Linked DNA regions of Homo sapiens. The protein of the gene in region 1 purifies or fractionates together with the protein of each later gene. This does not show direct contact. Each region holds a gene or a part of one and is shown on either strand. Other genes may lie near its edges. The genes, in order: ZNF354C and CBLIF.

Evidence for each region.
Region 2: the proteins of ZNF354C (region 1) and CBLIF purify together in Homo sapiens (affinity purification with mass spectrometry; one large-scale study listed by BioGRID and IntAct). This does not show direct contact.

What each region holds. Positions count from the first base shown.
Region 1 is NC_000005.10:179,073,601-179,077,427, forward strand, and holds part of ZNF354C (zinc finger protein 354C), read left to right. Parts: intron 1-2,844; coding exon 2,845-2,971; intron 2,972-3,470; coding exon 3,471-3,566; intron 3,567-3,827. UniProt on the Homo sapiens protein: Transcriptional repressor that inhibits endothelial angiogenic sprouting. Suppresses osteogenic effects of RUNX2 and may be involved in osteoblastic differentiation.
Region 2 is NC_000011.10:59,828,575-59,832,265, reverse strand, and holds the end of CBLIF (cobalamin binding intrinsic factor precursor), read left to right. Parts: intron 1-469; coding exon 470-588; intron 589-2,720; coding exon 2,721-2,782; 3' UTR 2,783-2,993; downstream 2,994-3,691. UniProt on the Homo sapiens protein: Promotes absorption of the essential vitamin cobalamin (Cbl) in the ileum. After interaction with CUBN, the CBLIF-cobalamin complex is internalized via receptor-mediated endocytosis.

The DNA.
Region 1 (3,827 bases):
ATTTTTTTGACTCTTGGCCAAAACAAGATAAAGGCAGCATGGTTTTTTGTTGTTGTTGTTTTTTGTTTTTTGTTTTGTTTTTGTTTCTGTTTTTTGAGACAGAGGGCTGGAGTGAAGTGGTGTGATCTTGGCTCACTGCAGCTTCCCTGGGTTCAAACAATTCTCATGTCTCAGCCTCCTGAGTAGCTGGGACAACAGGTGCATGCAACCAAGCCTGGCTAATTTTTTGTATTTTTAGTAGAGATGGGGTTTCACCATGTTGCCCAGGCTGGTCTTGAACTGCTGAGCTCAGGCAGTCCACCCACCTTGGCCTACCAAAGTGCTAGGGTTACAGGTGTGAGCCACTGAACCCAGCCATCAGCTTGTGTAAGTTTTTGTTGTTGTTGTTTTGTTTGTTTTTTCAGAAAGAGTCTCGCTCTGTCTCCCAGGCTGGAGTGCAGTGGTGTGATCTTGGGTCACTGCAACCTCTACCTCCCGGTTCAAGTGATTCTCCTGCCTCAGCCTCCCGAGTAGCTGGGACTACAGGCACGTGCCACCATGCCCAGCTAATTTTTGTATTTTTAGTAGAGATGGGGTTTCACCATGTTGGCCAGGATGGTCTCCATCTCTTGACCTCGTGATCCGCCCGCGTCAGCCTCCCAAAGTGCTGAGATTACAGGTGTGAGCCACCGCGCCTGGCTAATTTTTGTACTTTTTTTTTTTTTTTTAGTAGAGACAGGGTTTCACTGTGTTGGCCAGGAAGTTCTCGCACTCCTGACCTCAGGTGATCCGCCCACCTCTGCCTCCCAAGGGGCTGGGATTACAGGCGTGAGCCACCACACCCGGCCTGGCTTGTGTATTTTTAAGATCTCAATGCCACTGGCTACTCCTGGTAAGCTTCCTTACTGATGGCTTGCAACTGGCCTAAATGATTTGACAGGACTTGCTTGATTACATAAAAAGGCCCCTGCTGAGAGTTCCTCCTTTGAGCTCTCCCACACCAAGATTCTTCACACAGACCCAGAGTCATGGCGTGGTCTGTGCAAATAAGGGAGACAGCACATGGAGTGTCTCTTGGCTTTCTAGTGCTTCCCTGAACTCTCTTTCTCTTGCTGTGCTGTACCCTTTGCCTTTCAATAAAAACCTTGACATGAATACGCTCAGTGAAGTTTGGTAAGTGCTGTCAACTCTCTGAACTGGGAAAATCTTTGTAAAACTATAGCATAAAGAAGGGTGGTGATGTCCTATATACTTGCAAGATTCTTGCATTCTATGTGAAACGATATATTAGCTCTAAATAGGTGATGAGTAACCAAAAATGTACATTATAATTATTCGAGTAACCACTAAAAATACAAAGAGGTCTAACTACAAAGTCAACATATAAGTTAAAATAGGCCAAGTGTAGTGGTTCACACCTGTAAGTCCAGCATTTTGGGAGGCTGAGGCAGGAGGTGGATCATGAGGTCAAGAGATCAGACCATCCTGGCCAACATGGTGAAACCCCGTCTCTACAAATATACAAAAAAATTAGCCGGGTGTGGTGGTGGGCGCCTGTAGTCCCAGCTACTCGGGAGGCTGAGGCAGGAGAATGGTGTGAACCCGGGAGGCAGAGCTTGCAGTGAGCTGAGATCGCGCCACTGCACTCTAGCCTGGGCGACAGAGTGAGACTCTGTCTCAGAAAAAGAAAAAAAAAAAATAAGCTGGTGGTATGTGCCTGTAGTCCCAGCTACTCAGGAGGCTGAGGCAGGAGAATTGCTTGAACCTGGGAGGCAGAGGTTGCAATGAGCTGAGATTGCACCACTGCACTCCAGCCTGGCAACAGAGCAAGACTCCATCTCAAAAAAAAAATTATAAATAAAATAAAATAAAATAAAATGGAATTTAAGAAAATTCAAAGCAAAGGAACACACATACATACACACAATCTCCCTAACTGTAAAAAACTGTAAGCCTAATGATAGGGCATAAAGTAATAAGTGAAAGATTGCTTTTCTGCCCCTCTCCACAAATATCAAAGAATAACGAGGGTGACAGCTTGTATCCTTCCAGATAGTTGTGCATGTGTCATATATATGTATATACAGATGTAGAGTTTTTCAACAAATATAGATTCTTTTGTGGCTGGCTTTTTCATATGAATCAATAATATATGAAGGTCAAATTCCAGTGTCATAGAGATCTACCTCATTCTATTTAGCGGCTGCATGACGTTTCATGGAATAAATGTACTGAAATTTGCTTATCCATTCCCTTATTGATAGATATGTAGGTTGTCTTCAATTGTTCACATTGTATTTCTTTCTTATTGCTGCTGTAACAAATTACTACAAATGCAGCATCTTGAAACAGCATAAATGTATTCTTTTACAGTTCTGGAAGTCAGAAGTCTGAATTCAGTTTTACTGGCTTGAGGTCAGGCTGTCGGCAGGGCTGGGTCCTTCTAGGGCTCTCAGGGGAAAATCTGTTTCCTTGCCCTTTTCACCGTCTAGTGGTTCCCTGCAGCCCTTGGCTTGTGGCCCTCTCATCCATCTTCCGAGCCTAGCACTCCAGTCTCTGCTTCTGTCATCACATCGCCTTCTCTTGAGAAAGATCCCAGGCTGGTATTTAAATTGCCTGTTGGCAGGAACTTTGCCTGTTTTCCCCTACTCCCACTGCACGTGGCATGTGTCATTGTTCTCAATGAGTACTCCATAAATACTTTTTTAATTAAATAGCTAATGGGTGGTTCCAAAAATTACGTAAACAGTTGACGTGAATTATTAGAATCCTGAGATTTTCTGTACATCCCACTGTCACTTTCTTCCTGCATTTTCCGTTGAAGAAGATGGTCCTGGGTGAGCAGGTATGGGTTTGCCATTACAGGAGCCTGTGACATTCAGGGATGTGGCCGTGTTCTTCAGCCAGGACGAGTGGTTGCACCTGGACTCTGCCCAGAGGGCCTTGTACCGGGAGGTGATGCTGGAGAACTACAGCAGCCTGGTCTCACTGGGTAAGAATTTTTGCCTATGACGAAGAATCTGTTATAGGAACGCCTCACAGGTCCATCTTTGGGGTTCCGAGCCTGTGGTCTTGTACCCTACTGAGCCCCTCAGAAAGGCTGAATTGCTGTAGAGTGGAAAGTGTACATCTTTGTTGTGATGCCCTTCTTGCTATCTGTTTCTCTACCCTCCACTCTCCCTCACATCCTACCGCCAATCAGTTCCCTCCTTGGAGTAGGCCAATGACTAGAGATCCCAGTTTAGATTCTGAAAAACACATAGGGACCCCCCATCTTAGAGGCCTTCATTGTCAGGGCCCTATAATGGTTCTGAACTGAGACCTTCCCCGGCCATTGACAGCTCCAGTGCCCCTGCGAAGTGCTTGTGCTGCCTTGTCTGCCTCTCAGGGCTTGCCTTCTTTGCTGTGTTGGTTCAGAGTGAGTAGTAGGTCAGTTCTAGGATTGGTCTTCATGCTATTTGTTCAAACTTCATTTGCTTCCTCATGAGCAGGGATTCCATTTTCAATGCCAAAGTTGATTCATCAGTTGCAGCAAGGAGAAGATCCCTGCATGGTGGAAAGAGAAGTCCCTTCAGATACCCGTCTAGGTAAGTGAGAGGCTGGGAAATGGGCACAAGGGGTTCTTTATAGACAAGTAGGTCACAAAGAGGCAGTTCTTGGGAAACTCTTGGAAATACTGAGTCCTCTTGAGATGCTCAGGCCAGTTGTATTTTGTTTGAGTTGTATAGGTTAAAGTACACACAATTACCTAATTGCAGTTATCTAATGTTAACCTATTTTCTATCATGGATTGATGAAAGGAAATCAGGTTTTAACAGAGAGTAGTTTAGAGTCACCTCGAACTAAAT
Region 2 (3,691 bases), on another chromosome or scaffold:
CTCCCACTTATAAGTAAGAACATGCAGTATTTGGTTTTCTGTTCCTGTGTTAGTTTGCTAAGGATAATGGCCTCCATCCATGTCCATTGCAGCACGATTCACAATAGCAAAGACATGGAATCAACCTAAATGCCCATCAATAGTAAACTGGTTAAAGCATTTTCTCATTTGATTTTATCTGATCATTTTATCAGATAAAATCATGCTCAAAAGAGAATATCATTTAAAATATCTGAAGCATTTATCTGAAGCATTTAAAGTGTCTCTATCCTGGCGGGTGGATGCTTGAGCCCAGGATTTTGAGGCTGCCATAAGCTAGGATCTCACCACTAGCCTGGGTAACAAAGTCACACCTTGTCTCTAAAAAATTAATTAACTAATTAATTAATTGACTGTCTCTATCCCTTCATCTTACCGCTTATTCCCTGACCTAAAGTGAGATGTTAATCATATATAAACTTTTTTTTAGATTTGAAACCACAATGACATCTTGGGGCCTTGTCGTCTCTTCTATCAACAATATCGCGGAAAATGTTAATCACAAGACATACTGGCAGTTTCTTAGTGGTGTAACACCTTTGAATGAAGGTGAGGGAAGAAAAGACATAGGCGTTATCTTCCATAGTCTGAAGGCTACATTCTTTAATTATTTTTTCATTTAATTTATTCATTCATTCACTTAATTAATAATTATGAGATCATGTGTATATACAATAATTCTATAAACAGTGATTGCTTATATATGTATACACACATATATTTTGTGTATATATATATATATATATAATCATTACATAGAGAAAGAGATTAATTCTGTAGGCAGCGATAATACTTTTCACAGAGAAGGAAAGTAAGTCTTAAGAGACATTAAAGGGTCTTGTACAAGGCATGCATCTAGAATGTAAAAGTGGATAATCAAACCCAGGTTTCCAAACTCTAGGACAAATGTGCTTTGTACAAAAGTTTCACTCAAAATTTATGCTTCACCTTCTCTCTTAAAAAAATCTCCAGAGAGAGGAATGCCTGCATATGGATGTTGGTGCATGTTTCCCCTGAAAAAATTAGGAGAAAGTGGGAAGAATAAAACTCAGACTTCAGCAAAACCTTAACATTTGTTAAAGCTTTTGCACACATATTAAAATATTCCCCAATTTAAAGAGCATTGCTGTATGGTTTTGGTCTAAGCATGACGTTACCTAGTTAACCTGATGTTAACTGTCACCATGCAGAGACATGTAAAGGCAAATAAAGTCACAGTACAGCCAAGGCTATAGGTTGGTAAAGATGCTTCATTATCCAATATTACAGTGGAGGAGATGTTTTTCTTAGAATCAATCATGTATTTAGCAAAATCTTGCCAGTCAGAATTTGTGGAGTTGTAGCAAAGCATATAATAAAGATCTTGGAATCACAGAGGACTTGGCTAGAAGCTCTTTCTCTTATTTAATAGCTGCATTATATTAGTAGTAAATCTGTGAGCCAGTTTCCACAGCTTTAAAATGGAAATTGCATTAATCATTTATTGGGTTATTGTAAGGATTGGAAATAATATACTTAGAATGATTAAGTACAATGTTTTTTGCATGGCATGTATTCAAAAATATTAATCATCATTATTATTATTAGTTTTCCCATCACCTTCATCCCAAGAAATGTCTCTATCAAAATATCCCATATACCCCATAAACATACACACCTACTATGTACCCACAAAAATTAAAAATTTTTTAAACACCCAGAATTTTTTTAAAAAGAAAGTAATTCACTTTGGGAGGCCAAGGCGGACGGATCAGGAGGTCAGGAGATCAAGACCATCCTGGCTAACATGGTGAAACCCCGTCTCTACTAAAAATACAAAAAAATTAGTCAGGCGTGGTGGCGGGTGCCTGTAGTCCCAGCTACTCGGGAGGCTGAGGCAGGTGAATGGCATGAACCCAGGAGGCGAAGCTTGCAGTGAGCTGAGATTGCACCACTGCACTCCAGCTTGGGTGACAGAGCGAGACTCCGTTTCAAAAAAAAAAAAAAAAAAAAAGAAAGTAATTGCCCCAGGAACTTAAATCAGGCATATTCTCATGTCTACAAATTACTTTTCTTCCCTGGGAGAAAGAATGGTAAAGGCCTCTGAGAAACAAAAATATTTGGGCCTGAAACTGTCATTCTTTCTGTTGCCAGCTACCTGAAAGGTAACAGATATTGCCATCATCTATCTTTCCTGTTCTGAAAGACAAAAATTCTCAACCCACTGCTCTTTCTTATGTCTTACAAAATCTTCAAAAATGAACAGGAAGTTCTCCCTTGAATGCCCTAATTTTGGCCTAAATAAGCCATTTTAACAATAACCACCACTTATTGCACAATTATTCTGTGTCAGGTACTGTATTAGGTACCCAGCGGTCATTATTCCTAATTTTGAAAATAACTCTTCAGAGTAAATATTATTAACAAAATCTTGTATGTGAGGAAAAAGAGACTCGCGCATCTTAAAGGGTATACCCAAAGACTTACTCCATGAAGTGGTGACCAGAGACTGGAAACAAGAACTCCCTAAATCTCAGTTTCATTTTCTCTTCATAATCAAACTGCTTATTTCTCTCTAGGATGATTTTACTCCTTTAAAAACATTTAATGGGTTCACTGCATCTAGCTCACTGCATCCCTTGGGGGATGGAGGTGGTTACATGCACCACAGTCACCTCATGTTATTCTCTGCTTATTTCCAGGGGTTGCTGACTACATACCCTTCAACCACGAGCACATCACAGCCAATTTCACACAGTACTAACGAAGAGGTGGGTTCAGCTTCTATCAAACATCTCCAAAGGATGGGTGAAATTTTTTCCACTTCATTTTAAATCTATGCAAAAAAGCGAATGCCTGTGATGCTACCATATTCCTGGTAAAAACATGGAGAACCACTATGTAGAATAAAAATGCAAAGTTCACTGGAGTCTCAACATCTATGACTCATGAAAATAAAATTTTCATCTTCTCAACACAATGACTGCCAATCATCATTTAAACCTAAGCTGAGGGGAAAAGGGAGAGTAGCTGATATTTTTGGATATCATTCTGATTTCTTGATTAATTAAATAGCACATTCCCTATTTCTACAAATGATATATTTTTTAAATTTCATATTTTCTTATCATACCAAGCACTCCTTTTCAAATTGCCTAACGTAAATATGCCCACGTATGTACATACATGTATACATGAAATGACCAAACATTTCAACATATAAAACTCCCAGATGGTTCAAAACTTGGTAATTGATGTTATGTCTTAACTCTCTCCTTCCATTTCCAATTTTTTTGTTAAATTCATATTTAAAATATATATTTAGATCATTTAATATGTACTTAGTAAACTAACTTATATTCAATATATTATACAGAATTTAATATATCATATATTTTACATGATTATATATAACTTAATATATGTTATATGATTATATATAATTTAACATATTATATATTTTATATGATAAATAGATATAGATCTTTGAAAAAAAATTAAGCTTTCAAAGATAAACATAACTGTAATCTCTACTGGTAGGAGTGAACACTGGTACAAACTTTCTAGAGAATAATATAAAAATTTGTATCAGAAGACCTAAAATGACCGGGTGTGGTGGCTCACGCCTGTAATCCCAAAAGTTTGGGAGGCCAAGGAAGGTGGATCACCTGAG